Linked DNA regions of Homo sapiens: region 2 is reported to be linked to region 1. The links are microRNA targets in miRTarBase. Many come from high-throughput screens and were not tested one by one. Region 1 holds a microRNA gene; the other region holds the end of a gene's coding sequence.
The links. Region 1 holds the annotated microRNA hsa-miR-4796-3p (UAAAGUGGCAGAGUAUAGACAC, at 2,942-2,963, shown strand). A microRNA usually pairs through its seed, bases 2 to 8, with sites in the 3' UTR of a target mRNA and lowers its output. Matches are read on the target gene's strand: a 7mer-m8 pairs with bases 2 to 8, a 7mer-A1 pairs with bases 2 to 7 and ends in A, and an 8mer does both.

Region 1 (5,273 bases):
ACAAGTGACTCTTCAAATAATTAAAAAAAAACAAAAACAAAAAACAAACAAACAAAACACACTACAGTAGAAAAAGGGGAATGGGGGAAAAAAGATTAAGCACTTAACATGTTGAGTATATACCCAAAGCAGAAAACTCAGTGAGTGAAAAACTTGTCCTTCAAAAGAAGATACTTTCTATCCTTCACCAGTAACACAGAATTGATAGTCTGGTAACAGAAGCCTTTTAAGTAGGGGTGGTGGGAAGAACACTGTCTTCCCAAAGGCTTCAGTAGGTATTCAATTGCCCAGGGCAATCTGATCAGCATGTCCTTGTTTCTAGAATTGAGTAAACCAAATCAGGATGAACCGCACATGGTTTAATAGTTAACTTTTAGAACAAGGGGCAGGGAGATGCTTTTACGCCATAGGCCCAGTGTTCATTCCAATCTCATTACTAAAGTCTGTTCTGAGAGCATTTACAGCTTTCCGGAGAGTCTGAGTTTGGCTGAATCCTGAAGATGGAAATGTAGCTTAATGACCTCCTTGTCCTGGAGTCTCCCTTAATACAGGTGAATTTTTGTGATAAATCATTCTCTAGAATCCAAAGTATTGATTGATATCATCATTATTACTATTATTATTATGATTAGCCCTTTCTTATGTGGTTAGTTCTCTCTCCATTTTCCTATTCTAGGAATAAGTGTAAGTTTTGTGAATATGCATTTGCTCTCTCTGAGTTTCTTTGAAACAGTTTATGTCTTCTTTCAAGTTGGAAGTGTGAGATATTTTGAATTATAGTTGGATGTGCAAGTCCAGTCCTGCTTTTTAGAGATCAGGAACAGAAAAGGTTCTACAAACAATCCTTTATTTGACTAAGAGACAGAACAAAGGAAGGGAGATAATTGTATCTTTGGGTGATTCAGTCTTCGGTGCTTAGTATTGATTGACTAGTGGTCTCTTTATCCTGGCCTCTGCTTTCTCAGATTCCTAAACAGACTCTTCCCTTATGTGTAAGAGGAACTCCCTCTTAGCATCTTCTCAGTCTCTTCCAAAGGAGAGTAACCATGGACGAGGATTTAGCATATCTAATGAATGGGCATTGGGTTATCAATAAGTATTAAGGGAAAATAACAACAAGAAAATTGAGGGCAGATTCATGGTAAGCATTGTTTGTGGAACTGTTGGACGGGTCTGGTGTGTAGTTGATGTTGTTGTTCTAAACTGAGCAGCAACAGTAACAACAAACAACGAAATCCTACTTCCCACTCTCTTCTTCCTTTCTATTCAAAAACAACCATCACTATCACAATAGCCCAGTAGACAAAATAAAAGCATGTCTATATTTTTGGTATATTACTGTATGTCTTAACTGTAGTTTCTCTGCCACACATTAACAGAGTTATTTATCCCTGATGTTTTTCAAAGATCACCTTTGTGCTTGTCTGCATAGCTGTTCTAATAGTGTTACTATTGTCTCTTCTTCATTATCTCCTTTTATTTGAGTTCTTTTTTTTCACGTATGCAAAGAGGCTCTTTTTCTAGGCTCTTTGCACACATTCACCATTGCACTAGGACAGATGGGTGTTTTTCTATATAATGCCTTTTAAAGTGAGAAGACAGCAAGAATAGATTTTGAACAATATTTTACCAGCATTATTGAAAAATTAGCTACTGTATATTCTATATACACACACAGCAGCTGCATAAAATGCAAATTCTATTCATGTCTGATCTCTTCTGCATTTATATGGTGACTATCGCTGTAGCACCTAAGCACTTTATGTTATTTCCTCTTATTATTATTTACCACCTGATCATTCCAGAGTGCTTTTTACAATCAGAGAATTTCATTAACAACCCATTCCCTCGCTCTTTGTTTTTCAGCACCCTTGCATGTAAAAGTATCAAGCATCTTGGTAGCTATATCAGATAAATTACAGTAAAAAGATAGAGGGCTTCCGACAGGAGGGCAGGGGAAAAAACACCCTAAAGCATCTCCTAAAATTTGGTTTGTGTTTTATGGTATCCAAATAATGTTACAGAAGTCTGTAATTTTAGTGAAAACCAAACCACTAGATAAGCGCTTTTATTTATCATGGTTTCCACCATTGCAATAATCGAAAGTGTGAGGTGAGGAAGAGGAATACTGTCTGCACTTCATAGATAGAGAGGACTGGGCAATTGCACTTTCTTCTCACTGTGGAAAGCTTGTGATTCTTATTGACTCTTGAGCTGCCTTTAGCCCAGAAGTATAGAAGTCAATCTGTTTTAAAATCCAAAAAGCTACTGTTATATTTTTTAAGCTAAGAGGATAGAAACATGTTTATTAAAAGGTTCATTGTGATTATAGATGAAAGTGCGTGGTTGGTACCTTAACAGTTTGATTGAATAAAAATCAAGTTCACACTGGGGTTTCCTTCTCAGCTCTACTCCTTGCTTTCTCTTTGACTCCAAGCTAATTGCATAACCTCTGGTTGACTTGTGCCTCGTCTACACATTCAAAGTGAAATTCAGAAATGAGGTTATTATCTAACTAATGTAGGCTGTAACATTATTTCTCTAAAATATCTCTGTGAGAGAATTTTGAAATTTCTGATTTCAGTAGATAGTAAAAAAAATAACAATTTTATGGACCATCTCCTTTTATTCTTAGACAACAACCCCATGGAGGTGGATACATCAGAGTCAGCTGGAGGTGGTCAGAATTATTTGCAATGTTTGGTAAGACACAGATTACTGCCCCTTCACCAAGTTTCTGATTCAGAGTCTAGGGTAGGGACTGATAATTTCACTTCTGATATGTTTCCACATGATGCTGATGGGGACCACATTTTTTGGATCACTGCCCTAAGGATGATATGGCTTAAGTACATATAGAAAAGGAAATCAAGGCTCAAGTCATGGCAGTAAATTTGTGTCTATACTCTGTCACTTTACTTTTGGCCTCAAGTCATTGCAGTAAAGTGGCAGAGTATAGACACAAATTTAGGCCTTCTTCCTACTACAGACATTTTCTTTTCACTTCTACTAGAGATATTTTCACTTTACTTTTATGTTTTGAATGACTGTCAGTCGTCTTGAGATCCTAAGTGAAAAAGCATTGTAAAGAGTGGTAATTGGATCTTTTCCCCTTAGATCCAGTGGCTACCCTATTGCATTTGTGAAAGGAGAGGAGGAAGCCATTCCAAATTTTAGTGATTAGCTTTGGTATGAACAGCTTTTAAGGCCAGCTTTATACTTCCCTTTGGGGATGAGAGTAATAAACATAGTCTTCTTTGTATTCATTCATCATAGCCTGTACATAGATATGAACAGGTTTCTCTTTGATGGACTTATGACCATGTTCTGCTGTGACAATGCTTTGTAAAAAAATTGTCACTTGTATATTACTTCTCCAAAAATCATAATAAAAAAAAGATGTCAAAGTGAACATGATGGGGCAAGGGAAAAACCACTGCAGACAGACTGAGGACACTTGAGTCTTGTACTACCTCACATATTGGCACAGATATACTGACCTCCATGGGAGACACCCAACAATTCTTCTTTACCCAAGCTATATGTTACAGTCACCCAGAAAGGCTTTGAAACAAACACCCACATCAGGGCCCAGGTACAAGAAATTCTGATTTAATTGTTCTGGGGTAGGGTCTGAGTATCAGTAGGTTTTAAAAGCTTGCCAGGTGCTTCTAATGTGCAATCAGGGTTAAAAAACCACTGGCCTAGTGTTTAAGGGCCTGGGTTTTGAAATCAGACAGATCTGAGTTCATATCTTGGCTCTTTCACTTAGTTACTATGCAACCTTGGACAAGTTATTTAATCTCTGTCAGCTTTAGTTTTCTCGTATGTAAAATGAAAATAATAGCACTTGTCTTGTAGGAGATCTATGAAAATTAAATTAAATGATACATTTAAATGTTTGACATCGTACCTGGCTTGTGGTATGGATCTACTACACATCAGCTGCTGTTGCTATTATAATGCACCTCAGTTTCCTTATCTGTAAAGCAAAAGAGGGGGCACTTTAATTTATGAAATGGAGGACAAATATCTCAGGATTTCGTATAGATACTTGTCTGTCACCATATCCACAGTATCCTACCCGGCTTCATTTTTGCCGTTCTTACTTCCTACACATATTTATTATTGTTAGGTACAATCATTGACAGGCTCAACCTTTATTATGATATTTTACCAATAAATACTTCTCTGCCCTCCCCCTTCCCACCAAGATTAAAAACTTGAAACATACAACAAATCCACTTGTCATATGGGGTAATGTAGGTATGATGGGTGGTTGACCTATGGGTTTAAGAAATAAAAGGCAGAGTTTTGTAAACATGTCTAAAAACTAACATGCCCCTATTCTTGATTGCTATTTTTTTCTGCCATCACTCACTCTAAGAGTTCAGTTGTTGGTAGCTTTCATCCTAGAAAAGGAAAATTGTTCATACTCTACTTCTTAAAGATTATTGCAATTTGTTAATTCCCTTCATTTTCCCATTTTCCCTGATTTCCTTCTGTATGTCTTTTTTTCTTTTCTTTTTTTTTTTTTTTACAGTCTTGCTCTGTCACCCAGGCTGGAGTGCAGTGGGGCAATCTTGGCTTGCTGCAACCTCCGCCTCCAAGGTTCAAGCAGTTCTCTGCCTCAGCCTCCAGAGTAGCTGGGATTACAGGTGCCCACCACCATGCCCAGCTAATTTTTTTTTTTTTTGTATTTTCAGTAGAGACGGGGTTTCCCCATCTTGGCCAGGCTGGTCTTGAACTCCTGACCTCATGATCCACCTGCCTCAGCCTCTCGAAATGCTGGGATTACAGGCGTGAGCCACCGCACCGGCCTCTTCTGTATGTCGTAGAGAAGCCTTAGTACACAATGAGTAGGTAACAAATTTTTAAAGCAATAATGATTTCATAAGCCTATTTGCTTATCTCCACCAGTGTTTAATAGGTTATACTTTTCATATATTTTAATATCTCTGATTTTAAAAATTAGACTTTCTAAAAGTCTCCTTGTATCACTCTTAACATAGAAATTATGTTTTTGGGTGGACAGAAAGAAATTATTTGACTGTCCAATAAAAGTACAGATGGTTCCATTTTTCTTGACTCATCTCACAGCACACATTAGTCAGGTCACATGCCTATTTGGGAATTTTTGTAGTACTAGGTCACTTGCCCAGCTTTGGGGCACATAAAAGAATATTTTCCTGGCTTTTAAGTTTGTGGATCTTACACTGTGCCTGGCATGGAGATAGGAAGGACATTTTTTTCCATTAAGCTTTTTCACTGTG
Region 2 (5,000 bases), not on the chromosome of region 1:
AGGACAATGCTGGGCAAGGAGCGTGGGGCCTTGGGAATGTGATGACCAGGGTTGAGTAGGTGTGCAGGGCACATTCGAAGGAAGGCATGCAGTTTCCTATGTGTGAACATTTCTTTTCAAGCCTGGGACTTTTTAGAAAGTTTCTGGTGTGCTCATTGTCCATGGTTAGGAAGAACTGTTCCACATACACCTGACATTGGAGTCAGTTTATTGATATGTTTGGAGATTGGCCTTTCAACAGTTTTCATATTTGAAGAATTAGAAATGAAGTCCGTTCAGATTCTCCAAAGAACCTCCAGCCACTGGTGGGGGACATTCTTAATTCACATTCCTATCAGTTGGTATCTCCTGTCCCTGAAGACACTGATGAGGCTTGGGAGGAGAATCCCACCTTTCCCTGCAGGGGGTTAGGCTGGGCAGGGCAGGGAGGTGAGGGCGCTGGTCCAGAACACTGGCAAGGGATGGGAACCTAACTTCTTCTGTGCTTCTGATTTGCCCTTGCAGGTGTTTTTCCAGGTCTGACCACCTGGCCCTGCACATGAAGAGGCACCTCTGAGGGAGCAGAGAGGTGGATCCTGTAGGCTAAAAGGCTTCCAGGCTGAGAGCCGGCCGTGGAAGGAGGGATGCGTGTTCCAGCCAAAGCATGCCGTTCTGCACCCTACCCAGTTGCCTCCAGGGCCTCTCCTTGGAAGGTCTTTTGAGGGCTAAAAAGGTCCTGTAAGAAGCGGCATAGCACCCGTGGTGCATGGTATGTGGGTGACCCTGGACTCGCCACTGGTACCCGCCCTTCCGAGCGGCGCCTAAGCCTTTGCCGTGAGCATGCACACTGAGAATGCTAATGGTTGGGTTGATTGTATGTTGAGGATCTATTACTGACCGTATGATGAGGCCAACTTTTTTTCCTTGTGGTTAGCAAGACTGCAAGAGATGGAAAAAAAGTAGTTTGAATGTTTTGTGTGTAAGGAGTATACCATGAGATGAGATGACCACCAATCATTTCCTTGGGGGGAGGGGGTGTCTGCACCTTAGAAAAAAAAAGAAAAATCAAAAAAACAAAAAAACAAAAACAAAAAAAGAAGGAAAATCTTGGAGGGTGGGCGTGGGAACTCAGGACCCCAGAGTGGCGAGTGGTGTGGGGAGGGAGAGCCTCTCTCCCCCTTTTCTGTGTGAGAGGAACTCTTAGTGTCTGGTGCAGCTATTAAATGTGCAATGTGTCAAGTAGCTTGTTTTACACGCTACAACATAGCTCATTTGTAACCCATTGTATAAGCTGTGTATTTACAAATATAACACAACAATTTAACTTTTCCTTAGAATACAAAAAGTCATGCATGGTCTGGGGAACTATATGCTTTTCCATTTTTAAGTCAGGACTGCAATACTGATTCCAGTTAATGAGCAGCTAAGATCCAATCTGTCTAATACAGTGACCCCCTAGCCATCCGGGCCTGGCAATATACAATTTTTTTTCCCCTCCAAGTTTGTAACACTCCCCTTCCAGAAAGGCATTGTGCAACACAGGATTATTTTTAAATGATTCTGAATTTGAATTAACTTTTTGGAGAATTCTGTGATGCCCTTAGAAGAAATTGGACACGTATTGAGTGTCACAAAGCTGGGGCTGGGAATTGCTGGTCTAATGTTTCATTAGACTTAAGAACCTAAAATTTTTCTCAGTTGGGTGGATAAAACCACTAACGCTTAGAAACTGTTTTCTCATGCAGCTATGTTTCTCTTATTTATGCCTTGAGGACTAATTTCTGGTTTTCTAGCTGTTAATGCACTGTTGACCTTCATAATGGTGCCTTACGCAAGCGATCCCTTCTGTGGGGGTCTCATACAGGGGTGTGGGCGATGCATGCTTTATTAAGGCTCTTGTTTCACCTGGCAGTGTACTGTATCAACGTATAATACAGAAAAAAAATCTCTTTAAGGTCCTCCTTCACAAAGACATAGAGTGAAACTCCCTTTACATGTCAGTATTTGTTCAACACTTTAGGCAACTTGACTGTCAGTGTTAAAATGGAAAACAGGAAAATGGAAAAATCTGACCAATTCTGCCACCTTGAGACTTTCATATAGACCTTGCACAACAATTGTATAGATCACACACCGGCTGTATTTAATATGTAACATTTTCACACATATTAAAGATACAGAAGTATTAAAAAACCCCCAATGTTAATGTATTTGCTTAAAAGGCACAAGTTTCACATATCTGTCTAGCTATCTGTTGGTAATACAGAAAGTATACTACTTTTTTAAAAAAGTGGGCAGAATTCTTGTGTATGTATATTTGTGTGTACAGTATGTGTATGTGTGTATATATATATATTATATATATAGATAATATATAAATATTTTTTTTAAGGAGAAACTAGAATGTTTAGCTAGAAAATTCCACAGCCTGTGAAGAAATATTTCAAAATGGCCATAAAGGAGGTAAAAATGAAAACCATAACCTAACTTTTATAGAGGCTTTATCTTTAATTTAACGATGTGCGGAGGACTTTCTTGCTTGAATCTGTTCCGGGCTGTCTGCTCTGTCCATCAAATGGGCAGGTCTGGAATGGGGCACCTTCGGCCGTTCAGAAGTGGCCTGAACAGAATGCTGGAACCCAGGCTGGACTCGGACACACTAAGGTTTTGATTTTGAATTTCAGCCTTATTAGAAGATCTAACCTAAGAGTAAGCTAACCACAGGGATTCTTTTGTAGAACACTTTTTATGCAGATGAAGCTATTTTTTCCAGCAAGTAGATTCTTCCAGTTTTTCCAAGGAGTAATTTCCCCGAATTGGCATACCACGGCGTGGACAGCTGATATTTCACCCAGCTGCTGGCTTGTGGGTGTGGCTCTTTGCTTTATATATATATACACACATGTGAGTCTGGCTGGGCTGGTATTTTGTTTGATCTTCCTGGAAATGAGCAGTGACTAACGCTCACATAACTGGTTTTTTTTTTATCTGGGCTGATGAATACATTTACCTAAGAAACTCATTTCGTTTTACTTAAGAGGGGAAGTGCAGTTTTCTTTTGGCAGTTCAGAATCCAAGCACTTGATTTGCTGGGTTTGGAAAACTCCTTTTTTGGCCTTCTATGTGCTTAGCCATAACAATTCCATTAAGCAAGAAGGTAAGCAAAAGACAAAAAAAAAAAAAGGAAAAAAAAAAACTTGCACTGGCTTGTCTCACTTACGAAACATGTCGGAGCTGTTTGCCTGGGTGGGGCTGGGTACCGTACCTGTCAATGCCTGTGATTTTCATAATTAGCACGTACATAAAGAAGTACATTCTGTTCAGGTGATAACTGAGCCTCAATCAAGCAGAAACTTTTTGCTTGAAATTAAAAAAAAATTTCTATTAGTGAAATTTCTTTTTTTTTTTTTTTTGGAAGCACCCTGTTATCTAAAGAATCTTTGTAAGATTTTTGTAAAATTTTGTTTTACAAGATTTTATTTGAAATTGTTTTTTGCAAGATTGTTATATTTCTGTATGAATGTATTTTTTATTGGAATAACATAAAAGAATTCTTATCAGCATCTTGAGTCTGGTTGTTTTTTTTGGGGGAAGGGGGTTGTTGGAACAGATTCCTCCTGCATTCATCACCCTGGCTTCCTCCTGGGGGCAAATCTTCATTGAGCAACCCTGAGAACAACTCACCGACCTCAGCCCCTTCCTCTTTCCACAGCCTGTCCTGGGAGCTGGAGAGGATGTCAGCGAGCCTGACATTGCCCTCCCTGAATGCATCAAATACTCTTCTCCAAGGACTGACAAAAACAACCCCCCGGCTGTGGGCACAGTAGGGAACCATGCCGGTTTGATCTTCCATTGCTCAAGCCAGGGAATGCATTGCAGAGGCACCTGCACAACGACAAACTTGAGTGTTTCCCTGCCACTTCTGTGCCTCCACAGCCTGCTCCAGTTCCGCAGCTAGAGCTGGGCCTACCTTCCCCAGCCAGCCCTGCCACACACCTGGCTGAGGCATGTCTGGGAGGGGTGGAGGAGGCAGAGGGACTCCAGGCCAGAGGGCTGTTCTCACAACCTCAGCCCACTCTCAGTCAAGGAGGGCAGAAAATAAAAGATGACATCACTGCCAGAGGAGTTACATCTCTTTTTTTTCTTTTAAGGCCAATAAGATACATTAAATGTAGAGTTTGTTTGAAAATAGGCAGCCTTTTGTTTTTTAGAGCAATGTTTAGCAAGTAATCTCAGCTTTGCTTTACTGTGTGGACCAGGACAATTTGATCCTTGTAGGAGTCCATTTTCAGATTACACTAAGCCAATCAGTAGCAATGGGGTAAATCAATGTGTTTCCGTGGGAACCAGCTTCTTAGTGTGACAACAAGGATATTCTACTTGAGGTGGCTTAAGCGCTCACTCCTCTCCATAGCTCTTCATTTTGCTAAACGTGGGGAATTTACAGTGGTTGCTTTTAATTTTATAATTGGAGAGGGGATGGATGTTAAGATGTGTGCCCAGACTAGGAATGTTCATTAATTTTCTTTCTATAACTGTGGTAAAAATGTCAGCAGTTTGGAGGGAGCTGTGGTAGGGCAGGACGTGGGGAGCAGACGACATTATTGCCGGGATTCGTGGGCGTGTTCTATCCCCAAGCACATGTCAACATGACTCATGGTTGGATTGCCCCGAATGTACAGTCTAAATTTAAAGTCTTGATAGTCATTCGCGGCTACTATTAAGACTTGACCACTTTGTCATGGAAAGACTATGCAGGACAGCTAAGTTATGTTCAAATAAGGCTGTTAGCGCTGCCGTGCAAGGAATCGGCTGCAACCTTAGGGTATTTATAGAAGTATAAAAAATTTCAGTCTGCTTAACAAATTTTTTGAAACCTAGCTAAAAGAAGAAAGGAAATGTTCTAGCTTGAACGAGCTGTGTGCTTTGGACAATTTGCTGAGCTACACCGACCCTCAGTTTGCTTATTGCTAAAATAGGGCTAGGTCACGTGGATCCAGCATTCTCGATAGCACTACAAT

Region 2: the mRNA of KLF6 is a reported target of hsa-miR-4796-3p. Seed matches in the 3' UTR shown: 7mer-A1 at 1,992-1,998.

What each region holds. Positions count from the first base shown.
Region 1 is chr3:114,741,142-114,746,414 of GRCh38, reverse strand. It overlaps MIR4796 (microRNA 4796), which reads left to right and starts at 2,890; the gene lies at 2,890-2,970. The region is part of intron 5 of ZBTB20 (zinc finger and BTB domain containing 20); the gene reads left to right.
Region 2 is chr10:3,775,095-3,780,094 of GRCh38, reverse strand. It overlaps KLF6 (KLF transcription factor 6), which reads left to right. Exons shown (of 4, transcript NM_001300.6): 4 at 505-4,099. The coding sequence ends at 556. Among named protein-coding and RNA genes, the nearest start is that of KLF6, 7.6 kb to the left of the region's middle.